7 linked regions of the Homo sapiens genome follow. The protein of the gene in region 7 purifies or fractionates together with the protein of the main gene of each other region. This does not show direct contact. Each region holds a gene or a part of one and is shown on either strand. Other genes may lie near its edges.

Region 1 (3,500 bases), on a different chromosome or scaffold from region 7:
TCATGTTGCCCAGGCTAGTCTTGAACTCCTGAGCTCAAGCAATCCACCTGCCTTGGCATCACAAAGTGCTGGGATTACAGGCATGAGCCATCATGCCCAGCCCCAAATGCATTTCTTAAGGATTTACCAAAATGGAAAAGTGGACAAACTAGAGAAGGCCAGAAAAAAGTAGCAGGTATGATTTGCTGCAACCCTGCCTCTAAAATTTGTCTTCAAAATATAAAACAGTTTCTATTTTAAGTTTGAAATTAAAAGGCATTTCATATTTTATTCAATAGTTTATAATACATGTAAATTTAATATTTATTAATGTTATTAGTCGGGTGGGAGGTATCTGGACAAAAAAAATGGACCACTGTCATCCACAAAGGATATGTTAAGTATAATGTAATACACTAAAACCTCTTCTAAGTTTGAGAAATGCAAACTAAAATAAAATCCAGAAGCCAAACACCATCACTGAGGAAAGATCAACATTACCACCGAGACCAAAGACAAGAACAAATGTATTCTAGAGGGCTATCACTAGGCGGGGGCAAATCTGTTTTTTCTTTTTTTAAAAAAAGAAATATTCTGCTCCATTTGGAAAGTTAATGCCACGCCATAAAATACATGCCAGAAAGCAAGCAGGTGAAGAAACAGCTTCTAGGTACCTTGTAATGAACCCAGTCAACAGCATCTCTTACATCCTGGAACATACTCCGGTAGGACATGAAGAGGTCCCCATCTTTAAATCCTGTTTCACAACTACAGAAAGATAAAAATAACATGACAGGGGATCCAAAACAGGGTAAACAAAATATATATCAAAAATTTCCCAGGGGACCCAAAGGTTCCATATCACATGGGTAAAGGCTGTGGCTAATGAGGAAAATAATTACTCCCTAATGAAAGTCCACTTTGACCACCAGAAATGGCTATAGTGTTCAATGGAATACAGTAATTGTGAACAAATACAAAGTGATAGAAGAATATATTGAATGGAAGCTAAAAGGCCAAAGTTCCAAAAATGTCAGGTTTTTTTATTTATCACTTTTTAGAAACAGGTTGAAGAAACATTTAAAACTTAAAATTGGTCATTTAGGTTCTTTCCACCCTGACTTTCCTGACACTGTCCCTAAGTACAAAGGTACTGTCCATTTTTTTATTTAGTTCAGTGACTCAGCTTTCCACCAAATTTAGTGTCTTCAAGTGGATAAAGCCCAAAGAGGATAAGAAGTTAGCCAACTCTGGTATATAGATGGCTAAACTTTCAGTATTGGCTATATAATTCTCCCTAAAGGGAGAGGATAACTTGTTTAAGACTTACGCAAAATTTTACTTCTGATAAGATACACAGTATTTATTCCTTAATCAAATCTTGCCTGGCCTGGGAATGAAATTAAATTACCATCCCTGAATGGCTCCTGGGTAGCTGCTGTGAAATGAGTTGGGGGGTTTTAGTGTAATTCTGCTTGGACAGATAATCATCACACAAACCTCCCACTCAGTTGTCACAATTAGCACCTCTGCTGGCCGTCTTCATTCCCAGGAGAAGCCAATCAGAAGTGGTGGCTGCAGCACACTGGCAAGGAGAGGGGCCGTGTGGGAGGTGAGAGCCTGCATGGAGCTGCTGGTGCTGTCCCATCTCTCAGGTTGGCAATGTGGCATCTCTCACTAGCACTAAATTCACTTTAGAAAAGCAGAAAAGACCTACAATGGCCAGTTCTCTAAAACCCTGTGCATTAATTTTAAAAATCAATTGGAAAAAAATAATTATAGTATATACATACCTGGTATATCTGGGACAATTAGTAAAAAAATCTACTAGGCAGGCCAACAGGTAGGTCTCTGAAAAATGAAGAACAGATATTCATAAGCTATAATGAAATAATTCAAACTTATTTCATTACCTCCCTTGAATACAGACTAATGGTCACAGAAGGGAAAGCATCAGTATAAATAAGCATAGAATGAATCTACCTGGTAGGTTGAATAGTGTGTTCAGAATGTAAAATCTTTCAGTATCATCTCGCTGGATAAATTTATTTGGATACTGTTCTCTAGTTTCTGGTCTGAAAGAAAAATTTAAAAATTAACTGATTTTTAAAATAACATTATAATAATTGGGAAATAGCATTATTCAAAAATTAACTCAAATATTTTGATGGCTATGTGCAAGACAGAATTCCGAATATTACGCATGGATAGCTATGAAGATGAACGAGTTCAGGTTCCAGCTCTTTATTTTTTTTAATTTTAATTTTTTTTTTTTTTTAAGACAGTCTTGCTATTTTAAGTCCAGGCTGGACTCAAACTCCTGAAGATTGCTCAAGCAATCTTCCCACCTCAGCCTCCCAAGTAGCTGGGATTACAGGTGTGATGTCCAGCTTAGGTTCCAGCTCTTAAAAGAGTTGTCAGTGTGGTGGGCGAGGTGGGTCACATACACATATAATTATAAGGTAAAAAATCACAACTACTACAAGAAAGGTGCAAACATTTATGAGAAAACCAAAGAAGGGAACACCATTTCAACTTAAGAGGTAGAGAGAAGCAAATGTGAGGACTAAGGAGAGGAAAATCTAGGAAGGATTCATGCACGTGCTGGTATATGAGCTGGGCCTTAAAGGCTAGGTGGACCAGTTGTGAAACTAGTCCAACTTGGGTAGAGAAAGGGGAGCAGAGAAAAATTAAGCTAGAAAGATGGGTTGAGGCAGATTAAGCTACTGTTTCTACACCATTTAGGGGCAAGAGGGTACTACTGACAGTTTTAAAGCAGAGGATAATCCCATCGGGGCTGAGTTGTAAAACAAAATTAAATTAGTGGCTGTTTTAGGATAAACTGGGGAAAGACAATGTGATGCACTCCAACAATGGCCACAAATTCTTCCTGTCTCTTTGTGATGCAATTTTGTGGCTCCTCCCATTAGAACTCAGTCTATTTCTCTATCCTTGAATATAGGCTTGTATAGCAGCAAATGGGATCCAAGCAGAGACCTAGAAAAACATGTGTGTATTGAGGCTTAATCTCTCTTGCAGCACTTGGAACCATGGACTACTATGTGCATGACAGTGAGATAGTCTGCTGGAGGATAGAAGGCTACATGTAGAAATGAAGCACTCGGCCAACAGCCTGTGAATGCCAGACATGTGCATGAGGCCATTGTAGATCAGATGCCAGGTCACCCACCAGCTAACCACAGACATGTGAAAGAGCATAGAGAGATCAGCTGTGCAACCCAGAATCACCCAGTTGACTCTCAGAATTTTTTCTTTTTTCTTTTTTTTTTTTTGAGACAGAGTCTCACTCTGTCGGCCAGGCTGGAGTGCAGTGGCGTGATCTCAGCTCACTCATATATTCAAGAGAGATTACCAAGGTAAAATAAGACCCGGCAAACTGAGCAGATTTGGCTGGGGGAACATTAAAGAGTCAAAGATGATGATGTCCATGCTAAGGTGTCTCTGAGAGGTGGTTGGTACGATGAACAGAAATATGAAAACTAGATAAGAAGTGATGTGAG
Region 2 (3,500 bases), on a different chromosome or scaffold from region 7:
GCATAATAAAATTATTTATTTCAACATATACTGCAAGGGTTCAGAAACAGTGACAAATATTTTTGGTATTTTTTTGGGCATTTTTTGAGGCAGTTTCCCTCTGTCACCCAGGCTGGAGTGCAATGGTGCAATCTCGGCTGGCTGCAACCTCTGCCTCCCAGTTTCAAGCGGTTCTCGTGCCGCAGCCGCCCAAGTAGCTGGGATTACAGGCATGCGTCTCCATGCCCGCCTAATTTTTATATTTTTAGTAGAGACGGGGTTTCGCCATGTTGGCCAGGCTGGTCTCGAACTCCTGACCTCAGGTGATCCACCTGCCCCAGCCTCCCAAAGTGCTAGGATTACAAGTGTGAGCCACCGCACCCGGCTCCTACTTCACACTTAATTAATTTTCATTACTGACATTCAAAATATACTCAACAAAAATAAAACTTTGCTTGTAATATGAAGCAAGCATTCAAAGGACATCAAATGGTACCAGATTTACATTTTTATTAGGTTTGTGCTAATAATTATAGATTTGCAAACAGTAACTTTGCATTTTAACTTTTAGATAGATTTTCAGAAAGCAATGAGTAGCAACTGTGTTTTACAGTGACAGAGGTGAGAGAATGACAGTTTCTTTCTAAATAAAGACTGACGGAATATTCCACAAGGGTGGTAGAGAGTAAGTTAGAATTACCCTTATTGTTAACAATCTCTACACTGGTGCTGCAAAATTTTTGGCTAGAGAATACATATTCAAAAGCTGAATTTCTTTTCTTTCTTTCTTTCTTTTTTTTTTTTTTAATGAGACAGAGTCTCACTCTCTCACTCTGTTGCTCAGGTTGGACTGCAGTGGTACAATCTTCGCTCACTGCAACTTCCGCCTCCCAGGTTCAAGCGATTCTCATGCCTCAGCCTCCCAAGTAGTTGGGCTTACAGGCATGCGCCACCGCACCTGGCTAATTTTTGTATTTTTAGTAGAGATGGGGTTTCACCACATTGGCCGGGCTAGTATTGAACTCCAGCCTCAAGTAATCTGCCTGCCTTGGTCTTCCAAAGTGTTGGGATTACAGGTGTGACCCACTGTGCCTGGCTAAAAATCAATTTCTACAAGGCCAATAAAAAGAGTGGATTTAGGCTGGGTGCGGTGGCTCACGCCTGTAATCCCAGCATTCTGGGAGGCCGATGTGGGTGGATCACCTGAGGTCGGGAGTTCGAGACCAGCCTGACCAACATGGTGAAATCCCGTCTCTATGAAAAATACAAAATTAGCCGGGCGTGGTGGCACATGCCTCTAATCCCAGCTACTCAAGAGGCTGAGGCAGGAGAATCGCTTGAACCTGGGAGGCGGAGGTTGTGGTGAGCCAAGATGGTGCCATTGCACTCCAGCCTGCGCAACAAGTACGAAATTCTGTCTCAAAAAAAGACAGTGGATTTAACAGAAGCATATGAATGCTTCTTTTACAATTTATTGCACATTTTTAATCTTCTGAGAAAGAATTCTTTCACCTTAAAACACAAACTATTCTCACAGTTCTATTATCAATTCTAATTAACAAATTTATCTGTACTAAGACATATTTGGTATTTGTATGCTATTCTATTTTTTCGGAAACAGAGTGTCGCTCTTGTTGCCCAGGCTGGAGCGCAATGGTGCGACCTCGGCTCACTGCAACCTCTGCCTCCTGGGTTCAAGCAATTCTCCTGCCTCAGCCTCCCAAGTAGCTGGGAATACAGGTGCCCACCACCACACCCAGCTAATTTTTTTGTATTTTTAGTAGAGACGGTGTTTCTCCACGTTGGCCAGGCTGGTCTCATATTCCTCACCTCAGGTGATCAACCCGTCTCGGCCTCCCAAAGTGTTGGGATTATAGGCGTGAGCCACCACGCCCGGCCAATGCTATTCTTTCGTATAGTAAAACTTTGCAAACACTTGTACGTGGCAAATGGACTTTTCTGGCATTTATTTATACTGGAATAACTATTCACATGCATTACCATATGCTTTGTCTAGACTCATGCCAGCCTTTAAACAAATCCAGTTTAAAATAATCTGATAAATTCCTTCACTTTGTTAAAAAATATTTCCTGTGATTTTCCTAAATGTAAGCAGTAATGGGGACGATTTTGAGTTCATCTACTATGCTAAGTATTGACTAATAATTTTTACCACAGGCATTCTTATTCAGTCATCTTCCTCCACATATAATACTTCCTCTTCTTGACAGGCCCTGACTCCCTGCTCCTTTTCCATGTGGCCACAATCTTACCCTCTCTGACCTCAATATCCATTCTCTAGAGTGGAGGGCAGAACATTCTCCTAAGATAGAAAACTGATCACCTTCACCTCTTACCTCTTTCACTAAACTTTATTAATCAGTTGAACTGATCACGTGTATAAGAAATTATGTCCACAGGATTGCAAAGCATAGGACATTTAGGAGCATTAAGGGATGGTGTTTTATAAGGCATATGAAGACTGGGGTCCCAACATTACCCTCTCCCATGCCAAATTATAACCTTGTCAATGAAAACAACAATAAAACATCAGACAACTTTTCTTGGACAGAAGACAGGGTGATATCTACAAAGGTGTGACCTAAGATTACAAAATAACGTAAAAAAAAAACCAAAAACCAAAAAACAATAAAAAGGCAGTATCCACTAAGTGCAGCTGCTATACTTCTAAAGAGAGGTGAAGTATTATTTTTTAAAAGCTTGCCATTGGAGGAGTATTTTGTATCCACACACACACACCCATCCTAATTTCTTATCCCTAATGGGAAAGTCTATATGTAAAATGGATTGCTTTCTTCTGATTCTGAAGGCAGGGGAGACCGTGGTTTTTTGCTTGTTATGACAATATAACACATGCTGTTAAATGTAGTTATGGCTGCAGACTATGATACTGTATATCTTTTAAAAAGCATAGCCAGCCTGTTCCTATACAAGATATTTGATTATTTCAAAATAACTAAGTACTTACGAGCTGCTTTGATCTGTCTCTGTGTAGCCTTGTATCTCACATGGCCAAGTCCAAGAACTGCATAATGATCTTGGTTCTGGAAAAAAAACACAAAAGGGAGTCAAATTTGAAATGAAGCCAATATATTCCATCCCTTGTGTTCTGGTACCTTAATAAGCATTTCCCAAAGTGACATTTCATCAGGAGTCCAGTAAGAGGTTCTGTATAAACCAGGGTCTATGGTCAGGTAAGGTTGAGAAATGTGGATTAGGCTGGGTGCCATGGTTCATGCCTGTAATCCTAGCACTTTGGGAGGCCCAGGTGGAGGATTGCTTGAGCCCAGGAATATGAGGCCAGCCTGGGCAACAAAGTAAGATCTCTGTCTCTACAAAAAAATTTTTAAAAATTAGCTGGGTGTGGTGGTGTGCACCTGTAGTTCCAGCTACTCAGGAGGCAGAAGTAGCAGGATTACTTGAGTCTAGTAAGTAGAGGCTGCAGTGAGCTGTGATCATGCCACTGCACTCCAGGATAGGCGACAGAGCAAGACCCTGTC
Region 3 (3,500 bases), on a different chromosome or scaffold from region 7:
CTTTTTTGAGTGCCAACATGATGCTGAGAGGAAATACTCGGAGCATTTTGGATTTCGGATTTCCAGATTAGGGATGCTCAGCTGGTAAGTATAGTGCAGCTATTCCAAAATCTGAAAAAATTCAAAAGCCAAAAAACACTTCGGGTCCTAAGGACCTTGGATGAGGGATACTTGTACTACTGTTAGCTTTGGACACACTGTGGCTACTGTTGCATTCTGTTATTTTGCATTCGTTTTGCATTTAGAGATGGCTGAGTACATGAGAAAAAATTCCAAACTGGGGATTTGGTTTTGGTAAAAATAGGATGAATGCATTCAGGTGAATTTAATGTCTCTAATTTGGGAGTTTGAATGGAGGACTTGATTGCATTATGAAGAAAAGCAGTGGGGTCTGCGTCCATGGAGGCCTTTTAAATAATGATGTACATTGCTTTCTGGAAATCAGTATTCACCTTAGAGCAGTGACTTCTGAACTTGGCATCAGAATTTCCTGGGGGAACTCTTAAATAATAGGGATTCTTAGGTTCAATCTCAGACCTACTGAATCAGAATCTGTATGTCGTACCCAAGAATCTGCATTTAAAAAAAAAAAATCTATCCTTTGGCTGGGCGAGGTGGCTCACGCCTGTAATCCCAGCACTTTAGAGTTGAGGTGGGAGGATCGCCGGATGCCAGGCCAGGAGTTCGATACCAGTCTGGGCAACATATTGAGAGTCTGTCTCTTGAAAAAAAAAAAAGAAGAAAAAAAAAGGTAAATAAATAAAAATCTACCCTGGAGATGGTGTAATGGCTGGCATGTATATTGGGATTGGGAGTTGGGAACTGTTGCCTGTTGGATGACTGTGTTTCTCTGAGCTATATGATTTTGTGACATACAAATTAACTTTTACAGGCAGCAGCACATGTTGATATTTATTCTGAGCTAGGTAGACCAGTTAACATTCCGACTAAAGTCTGTCCTACCCATGGGGGAAATGACATTCCTTAAAATTTAATGCTGAAACTGAAAATAGCCATGGGGATTATTATTGCCAAATATGTTTTTTATTAGTTTCCCTTTTTATTTTGCAGGTATGCAAGGCAGATGAGAAATTTAATCAGCTGGTCCATTTTCTTCGCAATCATAAGCAGGAGAAACACCTGGTCTTCTTCAGGTACTCCTCTGGTCTCTGTGGTAGAGGCATCAGGGATTCAGCCAGAATGTGCAGGTGCATGCGGCCTTTGGGTTTTGGATTCCATCTAGCATGGTTCTCTCCGGAATGCTTTTGGCTGCAAATAACTGAAAACCCAACTTTTGTTGTCCGAACAAGGTTGGCTTTATTTTTCTCCCGTAAAAAGTCGTCCAAAGGCAGGCAGTTTCTCACATGGGTTTCATGTGTCAGTCATGTCAAGGTCAATGTTGATGTGATTGGTCTTCTCTTCCTATGTGTCACCTCATGGATTCTGGATGACCACTATTACACCCTGTCATGTCTCCACTGAAGAAAGATAAGGGGGGAAAGGCAGAGGGGGCTTAGGGCAATGTTAGCTATATCCATGCCTTTTAATCAGGAGAGCAAAGAGCTTCTTCAGAAACCCCTCTGCCCTAGTTGACTTCAGCTGTGAATTCATCTTAGGGGCCAAAAGTGGGTCACGTGGTGGCCCCTCACTTCAAGAGCAGCAGAGAAAATGAGTGCGCAGCTTTTCTGCCTCTGTAGTAGTGGCCAGTGAAGCAAGAAGTGGTTGGGAATAGTGTTTATCAGCCACCCATGGAGTCCGCCACAGTGGGGTTTTGTCCTGTGGTCAGAAGGCAGCGTAGGGACAGATGCATATGTTCTTTGGACTGGTTGGTTCTTTTCCCCTTTTCTCCAGAGATAAATGTGTTGATCTTTAGTAGTACATAAAAAATAATTTTATATTTATTTATATATTTATATTTATAATTTCTTTTCTATCTGTTATCCTACAAATAAAATGCAATATTGACCATGACCCACAGTAAGAAGTACAATTTGGTACACACCCAAACAAGACAATAAAACAAAGGTTTTCATGAAACTGCACCCTGCTAGGTGGGATGTTTTCTATTCTGTTCTACTCCAGCTGTTAATTTTTTTAAAATGCTGGTCGAGACCCACTAAATTGATTTCAGAACCCACCAGGTCTGTGGGTTGTGAGGCTTAGTGTGTGAAACACCACTTCATTACATACTATGTGACTCAAGGTGGAAAAGAGCGGTCACAGCACAGGTGGAGGGACTGAAGTAGACAAGAGTTAGCCCAAACTGGAATGCAGTAGTGCAGTAGTCTGGTCTAGTGGGAGGAGCATTAGACCTGGGTTCTGGTTCTGCCACTTACTCTGTGTCTCTGGTAAGTTTTAGTTCCCTCATCTGCAAAAGGATGGGAAGTCACTTGGGAATGCTTCCAGTTAAGGAAAAGGGTCCAGGGTGAACTTTATTAGAAGGGTGCCGGGTAAGGAGCTCACAGATTCAGAGAATGTTGAGTGTCCAGCTCCCAGGGAAGGAGGCTCCCTGGCAGGAGTTCATGGGCCATCTCTTTAGGGCATATCTTTATTGGGATGACTGCCAACCCCTTTTTGTCTTTGGATGACTCAGCTCCAAGTCCCAAATATCTGGGAGAAGGGATCTGACTGGCCTAGCTTGGGTTATTTGCTGAGCCCTTGGGAATCCTGCTAATTGGGAAAGAAGCAGTTCCCTAAACGGAAAGCAGAAATGTTTTTAAATCTTGTAACACTATTTGTGGCTAAGATGTCATTGCTTTTGTTCTGAATGACTGTTTCACTTTAATTCCTTTCTCGGGGTCAGGGAGATTTCCCGTGAGAACATCTTTAGACAGTAAAATATGTCCTTGGGGGTTTTAATTCATGTTTAAGGGATTTTGTCAAAAGATTGGCCTTTCATTGGCTGAGAGGATTACAGATTGAGAACTCAGTTGTGGATGATTTCCACTGCCATTTTCCTTGTCATTCCCCTAGGGAGGGCTTGTAGTTAGGTTGCGTCTGCTGCAGCTATTGCTCACTGTTCCCCTCTCCCGGTTGTAGAAGGACCAAAGTGGCCAATGACTCTAAGCCCTCTGTCCCTCTTGCAGCACCTGTGCCTGTGTGGAATACTATGGGAAGGCTCTGGAAGTGCTGGTGAAGGGCGTGAAGATTATGTGCATTCACGGAAAGATGAAATATAAACGCAATAAGATCTTCATGGAGTTCCGCAAATTGCAAAGGTGGGTGGGCTTCATTGAAGGTAGCAGCTCTCCTGCCACACTGCTCTTTCAGGTCCCCAAATGCCCCATTCTCTAGTAGCCTGTGCTGTCCGCATGTGTTGTCTTTCCTGCCTGGAACCCTCTTCCCTCTCTAATCTGGTTATCACATCTCTGTAAACACCCCGAGCCTCCATTGCCCTGTTCCAATTGCTTTGCCTTTTGCTATGTCATTTCCCTAGTTACTGAACTTCTGTGCTAGACAGCAGGCTCCGTGACACAGGAGTCCTGTGTATTGTCTTCACT
Region 4 (3,500 bases), on a different chromosome or scaffold from region 7:
AGATGGGATTTCACCATGTTGGCCAGGTTGGTCTCGAACTCTTGACCTCAGGTGATCCACCCGCCTCAAAATGTTGGGATTACAGGTGTGAGCTACCACACCAGGCAGCCAATTCTTTTATCAGAACTCAAATAGCATCACCTCTTCCCTCCCAAAAATATTTAAGTGGTACCCCATCACTTCTTACATTAAGAACCATACTCTTATCATGACTTCAATGTCTTTGAAGACCCTGGTGCCTCTCTTGCTTAATTTTCTAATATTTCCCACATCAGAATTTACACTCAAGCATTTGTAATCCCCTTAACATGTCATGCTGTTATACTCCTGTATTTTAGCAAACATGGGTATTTTCCCTTTTTTCACCTGAAAAAGTATTGGTTATAAGGAATTATCTCTGCTAGGAAATCTATTACATTATATATTTCTCCCAGTGTATCTTGTTTAGGCTTCTATAGGTATAATACTACATGGTCATTTGTTTTCAAATGCTAATAAAGTGAGCTCCCTAAGGAGACAGGCTATGCCTTAATGAGTACCTAACACAAAGCTGTTGCTTAGTGTCAGGTACTGTACTAGGTCATTAAGGAATAGATAGAATGAGATAAACGGACCCTTAAACAAATTAAGAAATATATAGAAGTACCTTGGGAATATGTATACCTAAGCTTTCTGATCTTTCAATCCTTAGTACACTCCCACTCCTCTAAATTTCTGTAGGATCTTAATATTTCTACTAATTATCTTCAATGTTTGGTACACATCAGTCACCTAGGTGAGATATATATACACACACAGATGCCCAAACTCTGTCCTTGTAATCCCATAAAAGACAGCTATTGTTTAGGGACAGTTTAAAAGTGATCCCAATGGGCAGAAAACTTAGAACTGCTGATTTTATATTACTCAGCAGTCACCTCATGTCCTTTCCCAGCATTGTTTTAACTTTTTTCATATCACATGGTCTCAAGCCAACTAGATTTTATTCTTATTTGTATAAATGCCAATGCTTAGTCAACTCCTATGCACAGAGGAAGCTGTAACTGTATTTGGGGTCTCTATTTTAAGAAATAAAAATGTAATATCAAGGGGGGTGGAGGCCAGGCACGGTGGCTCACACCTATAATCCCAGAGCTTTGGGAGGCTGAGGCAGGAGGATCACTTGAGGCCAAGAGTTCAAGACCAGGCTGGGCAACACAGCAAGACCTCATCTCTACAAAAATAATAATAGAAATTAGCTGGGTGTGGTGGTGCATGCCTATAGTCTTAGTTACTCAGGAGGCCCAGGTGGGAGGACTGCCTGAGCCCGGGAATTTGAAGTTACCATGTAATCACACCATTGCACTCCAGCCCAGGCAACAGAGTAAGACCATGTCTGTTTCTTTAAAAAGAGGTGGAGGAGGCTGAGTGCAGTGGCTCACGCCTGTAATTCCAGCACTTTGGGAGGCCAAGGCGGGTGGATCATGAGGTCAGGAGTTCGAGACTAGCTTGGCCAACATGGTGAAACCCTGTCACTACTAAAAATCCAAAAATTAGCTGGGCATGGTGGTAGGCGCCTATAATCCCAGCTACTCGGGAGGCTGAGGCAGGAGAATTGCTTGAACCCAGGAGATAGAGGCTGCAGTGAGCCGAGATCACACCACTGCACTCCGGCCTGGATGACAGAGTAAGACTCCATCTCAAAAAGAAAAAAAAAATTAATTAGAAACAAATAAAAAAGAGGTGGAGGGTAGGGGAAGTGTAGGGTTTGTATTTATTGCAAATTTCTTGGGTACTATTATAAGAACCTGATGTCCTAAGAGATTAAAGGTTAAGCTTTTTTCCATTTTATACAGAGGAGAAAGTAAAAGACCCCAAAAATTATCTGATAAATGGTCCCATGAGTAGATTCCAAGTCCCCTGAATCTTATTCTAGGGCTCTGTTATACCATACATTAGTGTTGCTGATAATGAGGATTTCCAAACAATCCTTGCTGCTATGGTCAGGAATGCCAATAAACTGGAAGGCTTTATTTATTCAATTTTTTTTTTTTTTTGAGATGGAGTCTCGCACTGTCGCCCAGGCTGGAGTGCAGTGGTGTGATCTCAGCTCACTGCAACATTCAACTCCCGGGTTCAAGCAATTCTCCTGCCTCAGCCTCCTGAGTAGCTGGGATGACAGGTGTGCACCACCACACCTGGCTAATTTTTGTATTTTTAGTAGAGACAGGGTTTCACCATGTTGGCCAGCCGGTCTCGAACTCCTGACCTCAGGTGATCCGCCTGCCTCAGCCTCCCAAAGTGCTGGGATTACAGGCATGAGCCACCATGCCTGGCCAGAACCTAGAAGTTCTGGTTCCTAGAAAATCAGGTCTGCTACTGCCTTATCTTCTAGTGGCTGTTCTCTCGGTAAACAGCAAAGTTCTTTAGGCTCAGGCAGAAATCTTCTCTTCCCACACTATAAATCTAATAGAGGAAAATTATCCTGGAATGGACAGGATATTTAAGTTTGATTTAAACCCTTGGTTCCAGAATATATTTTGGTTTTGTATAACTTGAGGTAATAAAAAAAAAAACCTTACCTAATAATTTCAGCATATTCTTTGTCTTTTCCTTTACTGTCTCTCCATTTCCTGAACATAACTGAAGCATCGACATTGGCTGGGGAGAAGGTGTTGGGCTCATTAAGCAGTGAGATTACACTTAATAGGATAGTCCTAGAAACAGGAAAAAAGGATCAGCTATGAATACCCATATTTACAGTATTTAAAAGTATTCTGCTTTTTAAGATAGTACAATCAGATTTCAAATTCTCCCTCCCTTAAAATTTTTCTGATACAATTAAATTTAAGACCTTGGGGGAATAGAGATATAAATTTTTTATTGATAGTTTTCATAAAAGGCATTTAAGAAAAATAAAAAAAAATTTTTTTCAGCACTAAGAAACAAGCTGCTAACTGGCAGGCAAAGCAGAGGAAATCTGTGATTCTAGTATAAGGGTAATGCACAAGTGATTCTAGTATAAGGGTAATGCACAAAGCATAAAAATGAACTTGATAGAAGGCCCTGTTTCAACTGGTCACATGTTCCAACCTACAGAAAGCAGATGTCTTAGAAGCTTTCAAATACTGTTTATTTTAAAAATTACAAATTAAATGGCATGGGGGAAAAAGCTTAAAATATTTAGTTTCAAGGCAATCTTGATGTGGGAGCTGGTAAAAATGATGCTATTCTATATAACCAGGTTTTTTTTTTTTTTTTTTTTTTTTTTTTTTTTTGAGATGGAGTTTCACTCTTGTTCCCCAGGCTGGAGTGCAATGGTGTGATCGCAACCTCCACATCCCAGGTTCAAGCGATTCTCCTGCCTGCCTCAGCCTCCCGAGTAGCTGGGATTACAGGCGCCTGCCACCATGCCCTGCTAATTTTGTATTTTTAGTAGAGATGGGGTTTCTCCATGTTGGTCAGACTGGTCTTGAACTCCTGACCTCAGGTGATCCGCCCTCCTCAACCTCCCAAAGTGC
Region 5 (3,127 bases), on a different chromosome or scaffold from region 7:
GCTCCTTGAGAAGCTAGAACACATAAAGACCCGTGCCTATAGGAAATATTTCTTTCTTTTTTTTTTTTGGAGACAGAGTCTGTCTCCGTCGCCCAGGCTGGAGTGCAGTGGTGCGATCTTGGCTCACTGCAAGCTCCGCCTCCTGGGCTTCCGCCATTCTCCTGCCTCAGCCTCCGGAGTAGCTGGGACTACGGGTGCTTGCCTACACGCCTGGAGAATTTTTTTTTTTTTTGTATTTTTGGTGGAGACGGGGTTTCACCGTGTTAACCAGTATGGTCTCGATCTCCTAACCTCGTGATCCGCCCACCTCGGTCTCCCAAAGTGCTGGGATTACAGGCGTGAGCCACCGCGCATGGCCAACTATAGGAAATGTTTCTAAAGAGATCTAAAATTGACAGTCAAAAGGTTATTATGAAAGGCTGGACTTAAATTTTTTCCCCGTAGATACTAGGAAATACACAACTTATTAAGTTAAAGTCTACGCTTACACTTAAGTCACATTTTTTAAAAAGCCACTAAAATCCCATGCTTTAATGATATTAGTACACAATTCAAAACACTGTACCACGGTATCCCCTCACTGGTACTCAGAACACAAATGAAACACATCTTGATAAAGTAAATACCTTCCTATTTGGAATGTGCAAGACATAATTTACTAAGTTGATTCTTTTCAACTATTAGGGACTGAATTTTATTCTCAAAGAGATGATCACAGAACATGAGAATTAAACAAACCTTCCTATAAAAGAAATGGATGCTTTTATTCAACCTGAGTTAAAACCACAATGAATCATATCAGAGTTCATGGGAATCATAATAAATGACTAGTAAACCACTCACAAAATCAAAGCTATCAACATACTAGGATCACACACATTAATTAGTGCTATAGTTCAAAACATACCCTTTAACTTATTTAGCACGCAAAATAATCATAAAAGTAATGTCTATAAGCTCTAACCAAAAATTTTAAAAATTAAAAATAGCACAATTCTACAATTCTGATTTTACCAAGAAAATAAACCTTTTTTGGCACATATTATCCTATGAAAATGGAAAGCTGAGTCAGGCTGCTCTGCTTTTCACAGCACAAATAAGCATTCATGCTATCAGACTTGGGAAATTAACTCGGTGACAAAAATTCACTGGAAAATAGAATCCTTGGAAAAATGGGGTCAGGTGCCATCCACTGTGAGGCAATGATAATGTGTGTCCTTCGTTATTAGCACAAAGTTAGGCAGCACACTATAATTTTAGCTACATGCAACTCTATAGGAACACATGTGGGTAAGGCCTGAAAGTTACAAGCAAGAGTGAAAAGAACTGCTGTGTTGGGACTGAGGAATGATGGGTGTTTGTTTTTCTTTAAATGTCATTTCACCTTTTAAAGGAAAATAAATCAAGTAGGTAGGTAAAAATTACTGAACTAAAGAGATACTAAAGATCAGAAGACTGGCCAATTGAGAAAATCAAGTTTCATGATTAAGAGTGACTCAGGAAGGATGTCTTAGTTATGAGGGGGGTGGTGGAAGACAGTTTATATCTTTGGGTATTTATGGCAGGTCAGAATTAAAGATTTAACTTTTTCCCTTACTCTTTACATAAAAAGCTGGTTTATCTGAAAAAAGTATCAATCTAGACTTGGCAATAAAGTGGCACTTAGGCACTATATTATTGATATCTACAATGACCTCCTGGATGCACAAGAGACCCTGAAGGGCTTTTTTGATCAGCAAAACAAAAACAGAAAAGCAAAAAACAGTTAATTTTTGTTTGGTCAAGTTTACTCAACCAGACCACCTTGATACCAACAATGCTGGAGAGCATTTGGCAAGAGCAGGGCCACAATGCCAAATTCCTTGGAAAGGTAGACTTCCTATGATACTTTCATGGATTGGCAAATTTGTGGGGTTTTTTTGGTAGTAGCTTTTGAGAATGTTAGTTTCTGGCTGGGGTAGTGACTTACATCTGTAATCCCAGCACTTCGGGAGGCGAAGGCAGGTGGATTGCTTGTGCCCAGGAGTTTGAGACCAGCCTGGGTAACATGGTGAGACCCCATCTCTATTTTTATAAAATTAAAAAAAAAAAAAAAGATAGAGAATGTTACTTTCCTATAAAGCCATGATACCCTAAGTACTAAGACATGTCTGTTGTTGTCCTTTCCTTCATAACATTTCTCATAACCCGTAATTTACTTCTCATCTGTCTCCCCTAAAAGGGCAGGGGCCTTGTCTATTCTGTTCATTACCATATACCCAGCACTTAATAATGTCTGGTACATGTAAGTGTTCAACAAATATTAGTTGAATGAATAAATGAAGTATGAATGAATCTCATACAGCTCAACAGACCTGGGGGAAAAGTGAAGACAAACAAACAAACAAACAAAAAAAAAAACAAAACCCTAAAAAATACTTAAGGAAGACAGATAAGCAACAGTTCTATCAGTTGGGGTTATGAGACTTGATGCCAAAAAATTTACCATCATTCACAACTGACAATGGTTGTTCAGAGATTCAAAATATCTGAAAGATTTCAACTGAAAGTTAATATAAAACAGTGTTCTCTGGAAGACTCATGTACAAATAAGTTAATTAAGGGCCTGTTACTAAACCAAGATACAACAGGAGCCTAATGTTTTGTTTGTTTCAAGATGGAGGAGACTCTGCTGCATACACTTGGAGGTCTAGATTTCCATAGAGGGCACGTAGCATATTGAGGACCTTTTCTTGAATAGTGTCAACTTGGTCAGAAGGACAGTAATCATCCAGACTTGACCTAGAACCAACAGAAAGAGAAAGAAGAAAAATACACATAGGATAAAATCATACTGTGAGGAAAAGCTGCATGTGTTCATTTCAATGTAAAACAGAAATTAAGGTGTGCTGAACTTTGGATTAATATCAATTGAAAGCTAGTGAAGGTTTACCCCATGTTAGTCACCTTACATAAATTATGTTCTTTAATTTTCACAGCAACTCTATGAAATAGGCACAATTACTATCCCTTTAAAGAAATCTGAAAGAGATTAACCTGTGCAAGGTGACATGCGGTGTGTGCCTTAATGCTTGATTGCTAGACCATTGTTTGCCTGAAAGTGAGATGTTGCTTGGGAATACAGGGG
Region 6 (4,288 bases), on a different chromosome or scaffold from region 7:
TAATGTCTGGTTCTGACTCAGACTGTTCAATCAGCCAGCTGTGGATAATTGAGGGGTTACTGAACCATGCACAGCCAACTTAGGGCAACACTAAAAAGAGGTATATACCTAAACAAACACTTGGTCACCCATTCACTAAGATTTTTACAAAAAGCACAGAGAAATGATCATTGTATTGCAAATCAGGACTTTCATATTTGCAATTATATCTATAATAAAGGCATATATGTATTCTTGCTATACCACTTGTTAATACCGCTATTTAAGAATCTTCTTAATTCGTTAAAACAGAACATCAATTCAGTTAAATCCAAACTTTAGAAAGATATAAGTATTCCCCAAGTTACGAGGGAAAAATTTTCACCATTAAATTTACCACCAAGACACTGGAAAGGAATCTTTTTCTCTGATAGTTTTTCCTCAACAAGATAGCATTTGTGTCTGAAAAAATGAAAATCTTACAGTAGTGTTAATATCTTGTCACTACTCCAAAAAACCCACATAGGTCATGGGAAAAGATCATTCCCACATCTTAATGTAAAACCTATCACTGTTTATATTCAGGATTAATAATATTAGTGTTAACCCTCAAAAGAAGAAGGATTCTAAATGTAATTGAAAAGACTATAAAAATTCCTCTTTAACAGCCATTTCACTTTAAGGACCATTTGTGTACTCCACATTTTAAGTTAGAATTGTTAAAGAATGCTTACTTATTTCTTCTCAAATATTCCATTACTCCAACTATGTAATACTCATATTCACTTCCTCTTTCAGAGAACTTACAGCAAATGTGCAGTTTACACACCACAAACACTAGTGATGATACCAAGCTGCATATGGACAAACTTCCAGGCACTTATCTCCTAAATTTTACATATAAATTGTTAAAACAAAATAGCTTTAAAATACTAATCACCTGGAATTCCTGACTAAAAGTACCAAAATCCCATCCTCAAAACCACTTTCCTAGAAACAACACTCCCAGAAGCTGAAAGATATTTACATTGCACCAGAGTCCCTGATGGCTATGCTTAGATGTTAAAGCTTTGCTACAGGCAAAAAATATCAAGGAAGAAGTGACACTATTGCTACATGCACATGCAGCATGTTTTAAGTTGTGAAAACAAACCATTATAATCCAAACAGAATTTTTCATGATCTGAGCTACTGTTAGATCAGCAATGCTGAAACTGCTTGACATTTCTTTTTCTAAAAAACAAAAAGAGTTATTTGACAACACTGTGTAGCAGTGCACATTTATAATAAAGATTATGCGCTTTAAGCTTGCGATCACATAAAGATTTGATTTTCAACTAGTCCGTATGTTGCACTATTGTCAGATCATTGTGTATCCGTAGCTGAAGTGGTGGAAACACCTGAAAAATTATACGACTAGCCTACATTTAAAAACAAAACTGACCCTGTCTGACAAGAACCCTTAAGAATTCGCCTTTTTCTAATGCTCAAACATTCTGCAGCCGCTTGATCTGGCGAAAAATCGTCAAAGCTCCTGGTTTTATCATTTGCTGCAGGGAAAAAAAGAATATGGCTGAAAATTCTTTCAGAAGGGTGGTATTTCAAACAGGACCACCCAAAACACTTAAGAATACGCAGCGGAGAGTAGGGTGCAGGGAGGGTACCTTACGAAACAGCGCACTTCGGGCCCTGCACGCTACCTCATTTCCCTAATAGGGATGAAAAGCTCAGGCCTCTGGTAGCTTCCAGCTGACGCCAGTGCTCTCTCCACACCCCTTTTTTGACAGGATTATCCGGGGTTGAACGCTGTGTCACAAATACGAATTCCCGCGACCACGTCTAAGTGGTCTAACAATCAATCAAGCATCTTTTACAAAACCAAACCCTTCCCCCATCCCGTTCCCTCCATCTCTCTCCCTAGCCAAACAAACCTAGGAGAGTCCTCAAGATGGATTTTCACAAATCCTGCAGCGCACTAACTGGGAGGAAGAAACGATACAGAAAATAAGAGTGTCGGCCATCCCCCTCTCTGCAACCGAAATTACAGGCTCCATTTCCTGTCCCCTTGGGAACTGCAAAATCCTCTGCTGAAAACCGGACGCCTCCCAGCCCCTCCAGGCCGGCGCACGCGGCCGCCGCGCTCCCCCTTCCCGGGCCCCGTGGGCGCCAGGGGGCGGCGGGGACCCACGGCGCCCTCCCCTCCCCCTCCCCGCACGGCACCCACCTCGGGGCAGCGGCTTCACCTCCCCGTTCTCCTCCCGGGAGGCCCCGCCGGCCTCTCGGGCCCCACCGAGACCGTGCCTCCTCCTCTCCTTCTCCCGCTTCTCCTTAGGTCTGCGCGACTTGGCGTTAGCCGAGGCAGCGGCGGCGGCGGCGGGCAGGAGGAGATGGTGAGGCTGAGCGTGCAGCAGCGTAGGAGGGACCAGCAGTTTGCGCGGCACCGGCTGAGACAAGGAAGCGGAGGCTGAGGAGGGAACGGCCGTGCCAGCGGAGAAAGAGAAACTGCTCCGAGAAGAGGACGGGGAGGGAGCAGCAGACAGAGGGGCAAAGCTCCAAGACGCGGGGCTGCCATAGCTCTGAGGCGAAGGTGCTGCCGGCGGCTGCAGCTGCCTGCTGTTCCCGCCGCTGCCCCCTTCTCCGTTCACTCTCCGCGGTGCCTTCTTCTCCTCAGTCCGGACCTTCTTGGCGGACAGAGAACCCGGAGGGTCCCGGGAGGAGAGTTGCAGCTTGCCAAACGGTTCTTTCTCCGAGACGGTGGCGGTGGGGGCCGCGGCAGCGACACAGTGCACGGGGCTCGGCGGTTCCGCCATTTTGCGCTCCTGTTGTATTTACTCTCCTCCGCTAGCCGGCGCGGGGCAGGGGGCGGGCCCTCCGCGAGGGGTAGGGAAGGGGCGGAGCGGCCAGGCCACCAGCCGGCATTGCTCCATTGGGCAAGCCACGCTGAGGGATCCACCTAAGAGCCAATCAAAGGCACAAACATCAGACGAAGGGGCGGGATCGCCACAGGGACCCTCTTCGGAGGTCAGAGCTCGGCGGGGTGCGGCTAGTGGCGGAGCGCGCTGCGAGGGGAGGGCTTTCCACTGTCGCTGGCGTGAACTCGCGTGCCCGGTGGGTATCAGGGAAGAACCCCCGCCCCGGACCCCCAGATCTGCCATGGCCGAGGTAGCGATCGTCTCTGCGGCCACGAAGACTGTTTTAACTTGTACCACTTTCCCTTCCATTTTTCCTGGGGTGCCTCTCACCCTGCATCTGCGCGTTCAGCAAGCTGGATTTCGGGAATGCTCAGTTCAGAAGAGAAAAAATTGCCGGGAATCAAGTCCTTCTTTTTGTTAGTCGGTAGTCGATTGATGGGAAGTGTTCAAAATCATTCGATGTGGTGACAAGGTACGTTATTATTGCTAGATCATGTGCTGTAATCCATTGAAGGAGATAACTTCCAGCAAATCTAGAACTTTAGTATTACTTACAAGCTTGAAGGTGAGAGTCTCCCTTTGGAGACTTTTGAACTGTTGTGACTAGACCCTTAAGATTTTTATTTTATTTATTTATTTATTTATTGGGACGGAGTTTTGCTCTGTTGTCGAGGCTGGAGTGCCGTGGCGCGATCTCGGCTCACCGCAACCTCCGCCTCCCAGATTCAAGCGATTCTCCTGCCTCAGCCTCCCCAGTAACAGGGACTACAGGCGTCCGGCACCATGCTTGGCTAATTTTTGTGTTTATTAGAGACGGGGTTTCACCATGTTGGCCAGGCTGGACTCGAACTCCTGATCTCAGGTGAGCGGCCCACCTCCGCTTCCCAAAGTGCTGGGATTACAGGCGTGAGCCACCATGTGCGGCCTTAAGATTTGAATTTTATAATAATTATTATAGCCGGGCGCGGTGGCTCACACCTGTAATCCCAGCACTTTGGGAGACCGGGGCGGGCGGATCACGAGGTCAGAAGTTCGAGACCAGCCTGACCAACATGGTGAAACCCCGTCTCTACTAAAAATGCAAAAATTAGCTGGGCATGGAAGCGCGCACCTGTAATCCCAGCTACTGGGGAGGCTGGGGCAGGAGAATCGCTTGAACCCAGGAGGCGGAGGTTGCAGTGAGCCGAGACTGCGCCACTGCACTCCAGCTTGGGCGACAGGGCAAGACTCCGTCTCAAAAAATAATAATAATAATAATAATATTATTATTATTATAACGTAGACTTGCCAGGAAAAATTCGTTGGCGATTATTTATGGATGTTTGAAAAGCAAGAATTGTTTTTTTAGGTTTCTGTATTTTAGCGTTTAGTAAGCACACTGCGTGTTCGATGTTTTG
Region 7 (3,968 bases):
CCCTGGGCAACATAGTGAGACCGTGCCTCTACAAAAAACATAAAAATTGGCCGGGTGGGGTGGCTCACGCCTGTAATCCCAGCACTTTGGGAAGCCGAGGTGGGCGGATCAACTGAGGTCCGGAGTCCGAAACCAGCCTGACCAACATGGAGAAACCTTGTCTCTACTAAAGACACAAAATTAGCTGGGCGTTGTGGCACACACCTGGGAGACTGAGGCAGGAGAATCCCTTGAACCTGGGAGGCGGAGGTTGCGGTGAGCCGAGATTGCACCATTGCACTCCAGCCTGGGCAACAAGAGTGAAACTCCATCTCAAAAAAAAAAAAAAAAAAAAAAAAAAATATATATATATATATATATATATATATATATATATATAAATTAGCCCGGTGTGGTGGTGCACACCTGTAGTCCCAGCTACTCAAGAGGTGGAGGTGGAAGGATTGCTCGAATGCAGGAGTTTGAAGTTACAGTGAGCTATGATCACACCACTGCACTCCAGCACTCCAGCCTGGGCAACAGAGCAAGACTGTCTCAAAAAAAAAAAAAAAAAAAAAAAAGGATTCAGTGTCAGTCAGGTACACATGGCCCTTCCTGTCATCCCAGCTCCTAAAATTCTGAGCATCTCTGAAGGGAGGGACTAGGTCTTAATCACCTTTATATCTCCTTTGTCTACTACTGCCAAAGTGGCAGCATCTCTAGCCTCCCTGTGACTTTCCTTGGGTCTTATGGGTAATATGGAATATTACAGCAGCCAGAGGGAACTTTCAAGACAGAAGTCAGAATAGCCCCTCCCCTGCTTAACACCCTGCACCAGCTCCCACTGCCTTAGAACACAACCCAGAGTCTTTCCCATGACCTATGGCTCTGCATGATCAACCCCCTCCTGTCCCATCACTGCACCCCAGCCCCAGTCCTGTTGACCTGTAAACAGCCAAGTTTGTTCCTGCCTCAGGGCCTTTGCACTAGCTGCTCTTTCTGCCAGGAACCCTCTTCCCCCAGATGTTTGCGTGACCGGTTCCTTCTTTTCAATCAGGTCTTAGTTCAAATGCCCCATCCTCATGGTGGTCTTCTCTATCACTCCACCTAAGCAGACCCAATCCCCAGTCCCTCCCCACCCCCAATATTCTGCTGTATCACCCTGGTTTGTCTTCATAGCACATATTGCTGGCTGACATTATCTTATTTATTTGATTTCTAGTTTTCAGACCGTCAACTAGAAGATCAGATCCAAGGGCTGGGATATGCCTGCTGTGTTCACTGCTTTAACCACAGTGCCTAGCACATAGTAAAGGCTCAGGAAAGATCGGCCAGGCACGGTGGCTCATGCCTGTAATCCCAGCACTTTGGGAGGCCGAGGCGGGTGGATCACCTGAGGTCAGGAGTTTGAGACCAGCCTGGACGACATGGCAAAACCCCCTCTCTACTAAAAAAATACAAAAATTAGCCGGGTGTGGTGGCACGTGCCTGTAATCCCAGCTATTTGGAGGCTGAGGCAGGAGAATCGCTTGAACCTGGGAGGCAGAGGTTGCAGTGAGCCCAGATGGCACCACTGCACTCTAGCCTGGGTGACAGAACAAGACTGTCTCAAACAAACAAACAAAAAAGATTTACAGAAGGAATGAGTCATAGAGGGCCCTCAACTCCTTGGCCTTCAAACCTAAATGGAACCAAGGGAGGGCAGACACTGGGACCAGCTATCTAGTGTTGCTTGCTTCCTGCTCCCACAAGCCTGAATGGCTAGCCACTAGCCTGGCCAATTGCATCTCCCATTACTCTTCCATAACCCCCTTCTGATCTAGATTGTTCTCACTGTCCCATGAACATACCATGCTCACTCCCATGTCTTTGTCTCAGCAGTGGCCCCCACCTGGGATACCCTTCCAACAACCAGCTCAAGTCCCACTTTGTCCTGGTGTCATCGTTCTCTCCTCACCTCTCTTCTGTGAGCTCCTCCAGCCCTTACATTCTAAAGTCCAGATTTGAGGCTTCATTATGTATTATCTATGTTGGGGTGTTTACTTTAAATACTGAGTGCTCACCATGTGCCCAGTGCTTTGTAAAGGCCATCTAATTTAACTCAGCTGTGTACTAAGATGGAGCAGGGGAGTATTACCCCATTTACAGATGAGGACACTGAGACTCCAAGAAATGAAGTGACTTTCCAATGTTTTACAGAAGGTACGTGGTGGACCTGGGGCTCAAACCCAGGCCTTCCAGACTCCAGAGTCCTGATTCCCTTGCTCCAATGGGCTCTCAGCTGCTGGGTGAGGCTGTTCCTGAGAGGTCTCCTCTTGCACTTCCCAAAACAACAGAGTAGACCCAGGCCCCAGGCCCAGCCATCAGGAGACTGAGGTTTGAACCCCAGCTCCGCCTCTCTCTGGGTCAGATGCTTGCTCTGTGAGCTGGGACTACTCTACTCGGGCACACGGTCTGGGACTGACCAGATCTCTTGGGGTACGTTTGCAGTCAGACCTGGGCGTGAGACCCGCTCCCGCCTGGCCCTGCCTTGGGCGCGCAGGGCGGCCTCGGCACTTGTCTGGCAACTTCTCCGCGGCCTCGGATCTTGCCCCAGCATTACTGCTGGAGTTGTTCCCCCATTTTACAGACAGGAAAACTGAGGCAGGCAGAAAGGAAGGCCCCGCCCGGCCGGCCCTCACCCTTGTTCTTCTGTGTCCGAGCGATCTCCTTCTCGATCTCCGAGATCTTCTCTAAGATCCCCATGGTAGCAGCAGAGGTGGGCGCACAGACAGCGGTGGCGGCGGCACCGGCAATTCCGGTCTGACGGCGGCGACAGAGTAGCGTGCGCCCGGAAGCCAAAGAGAACAGCGTTCTCGTGGGCGCCTGGTGCTCCAGGATTCAGAGTCCGGGCGAGCCAAGTGCCAGACACTATCGGTTCCGCCCGCTGGGCCGGCCAGGCTGCGGACCTCTGGAAAGAGCCGGGGCGGGGCCGGGCCATGCTGTACTGGCCCACGGCTGCGGCTGGCAGGAGCAAGCAAGGAAGAGAGGGAATCTGCCCGTGTTGAACTCTGAACTGCGGGTCCCTGAGCGCAGCTGACTGGCAGTGTAAGGAAAAGGGGCTGAGCCGAAAGCCTAGTGGCTTTCATTTTATACTATAAATGGAGGTGTCCAATCTTTTGGCTTCTCTGGGCCACATTGGAAGAATTGTCTTGGGCCACACGTAAAATACACCAACACTAACGATAGCTGATGAGCTTAAAAAAAAATCGCCAAAAAAACCCTCAATGTTTTGGCCGGGCGCGGTGGCTCACGCCTGTAATCCCAGCACTTTGGAAGGCCGAGACGGGCGGATCACCTGAGGTTGGGAGTTCGAGACCAGCCTGACCAACATGGAGAAACCCATGTCTACTAAAAATACAAAATTAGCCGGGCGTGGTGGCGCGCGCCTATAATCCCAGCTACTGGGAAGGCTGAGGCAGGAGAATTGCTTGAACCCGGGAGGCGGAGGTTGCGGTGAGTGGAGATTGCGCGCCATTGCACTCCAGCCTGGGCAACAAGAGCGAAACTCCATCTCAAAAAACAAACAAACAAAAAACCTCAGTTTTTTTTTCTTTGTTTTAGTTTTGTTTTTTTGAGACGGAGTCTCACTTTGTCATCCAGGCTGTAGTTCAGTGGTGTGATCTTGGCTCACCGCAACCTCCGACTCCTGGGTTCAAGTGATTCTCCTGCCTCAGCCTCCCAAGTAGTTGGGATTACAGGCGCGTGCCACCACACTCGGCTAATTTTTGTATTTTTAGTAGAGACGAGGTTTCACCATGTTGGCCAGGCTGGTCACGAACTCCTGACCTCAAGTGATCTGCCTGCCTCAGCCTCACAAAGTGCTGGGATTACAGGCGTGAGCCGCTGTGCCCTGCCTAAATTTCATAATGTTTTAAGAAAGTTTACGAATTTGTGTTTGGCCACATTCAAAGTGGTCCTGGGCCACATGTGGCTGCAGACCTCAGGTG

What was found.
Region 1: the proteins of DRG2 (region 7) and NT5C2 fractionate together in Homo sapiens (co-fractionation; one large-scale study listed by BioGRID). This does not show direct contact.
Region 2: the proteins of DRG2 (region 7) and DNAJC2 purify together in Homo sapiens (affinity purification with western blotting; one study listed by BioGRID). This does not show direct contact.
Region 3: the proteins of DRG2 (region 7) and DDX55 fractionate together in Homo sapiens (co-fractionation; one large-scale study listed by BioGRID). This does not show direct contact.
Region 4: the proteins of DRG2 (region 7) and UBE2R2 fractionate together in Homo sapiens (co-fractionation; one large-scale study listed by BioGRID). This does not show direct contact.
Region 5: the proteins of DRG2 (region 7) and C5orf22 fractionate together in Homo sapiens (co-fractionation; one large-scale study listed by BioGRID). This does not show direct contact.
Region 6: the proteins of DRG2 (region 7) and RSBN1L fractionate together in Homo sapiens (co-fractionation; one large-scale study listed by BioGRID). This does not show direct contact.

Annotation. Positions count from the first base shown.
Region 1 is NC_000010.11:103,099,273-103,102,772, forward strand, and holds part of NT5C2 (cytosolic purine 5'-nucleotidase), read right to left. Parts: intron 2,055-3,500; coding exon 1,963-2,054; intron 1,831-1,962; coding exon 1,773-1,830; intron 1,693-1,772; exon of another isoform or gene 1,480-1,692; intron 1,410-1,479; exon of another isoform or gene 1,391-1,409; intron 748-1,390; coding exon 654-747; intron 1-653. UniProt on the Homo sapiens protein: Broad specificity cytosolic 5'-nucleotidase that catalyzes the dephosphorylation of 6-hydroxypurine nucleoside 5'-monophosphates.
Region 2 is NC_000007.14:103,334,768-103,338,267, forward strand, and holds part of DNAJC2 (dnaJ homolog subfamily C member 2), read right to left. Parts: intron 3,045-3,500; coding exon 2,969-3,044; intron 1-2,968. UniProt on the Homo sapiens protein: Acts both as a chaperone in the cytosol and as a chromatin regulator in the nucleus.
Region 3 is NC_000012.12:123,612,099-123,615,598, forward strand, and holds part of DDX55 (ATP-dependent RNA helicase DDX55), read left to right. Parts: intron 1-1,022; exon of another isoform or gene 1,023-1,071; coding exon 1,072-1,154; coding exon of another isoform or gene 1,155-1,208; exon of another isoform or gene 1,209-1,867; intron 1,868-3,086; coding exon 3,087-3,218; intron 3,219-3,500. UniProt on the Homo sapiens protein: Probable ATP-binding RNA helicase. Has ATPase activity and is involved in the maturation of precursor large subunit rRNAs.
Region 4 is NC_000009.12:33,911,160-33,914,659, reverse strand, and holds part of UBE2R2 (ubiquitin-conjugating enzyme E2 R2), read right to left. Parts: intron 2,697-3,500; coding exon 2,562-2,696; intron 1-2,561. UniProt on the Homo sapiens protein: E2 ubiquitin-conjugating enzyme that accepts ubiquitin from an E1 ubiquitin-activating protein, and catalyzes its covalent attachment to other proteins by an E3 ubiquitin-protein ligase complex.
Region 5 is NC_000005.10:31,552,427-31,555,553, reverse strand, and holds the end of C5orf22 (UPF0489 protein C5orf22), read right to left. Parts: intron 2,782-3,127; coding exon 2,652-2,781; 3' UTR 501-2,651; downstream 1-500.
Region 6 is NC_000007.14:77,694,971-77,699,258, reverse strand, and holds the start of RSBN1L (lysine-specific demethylase RSBN1L), read right to left. Parts: upstream 2,801-4,288; 5' UTR 2,790-2,800; coding exon 2,204-2,789; exon of another isoform or gene 1,914-2,203; intron 1-1,913. UniProt on the Homo sapiens protein: Lysine-specific demethylase that specifically demethylates methylated lysine residues of proteins.
Region 7 is NC_000017.11:18,086,780-18,090,747, reverse strand, and holds the start of DRG2 (developmentally-regulated GTP-binding protein 2), read right to left. Parts: upstream 2,801-3,968; 5' UTR 2,725-2,800; coding exon 2,661-2,724; intron 1-2,660. UniProt on the Homo sapiens protein: Catalyzes the conversion of GTP to GDP through hydrolysis of the gamma-phosphate bond in GTP. When hydroxylated at C-3 of 'Lys-21' by JMJD7, may bind to RNA and play a role in translation.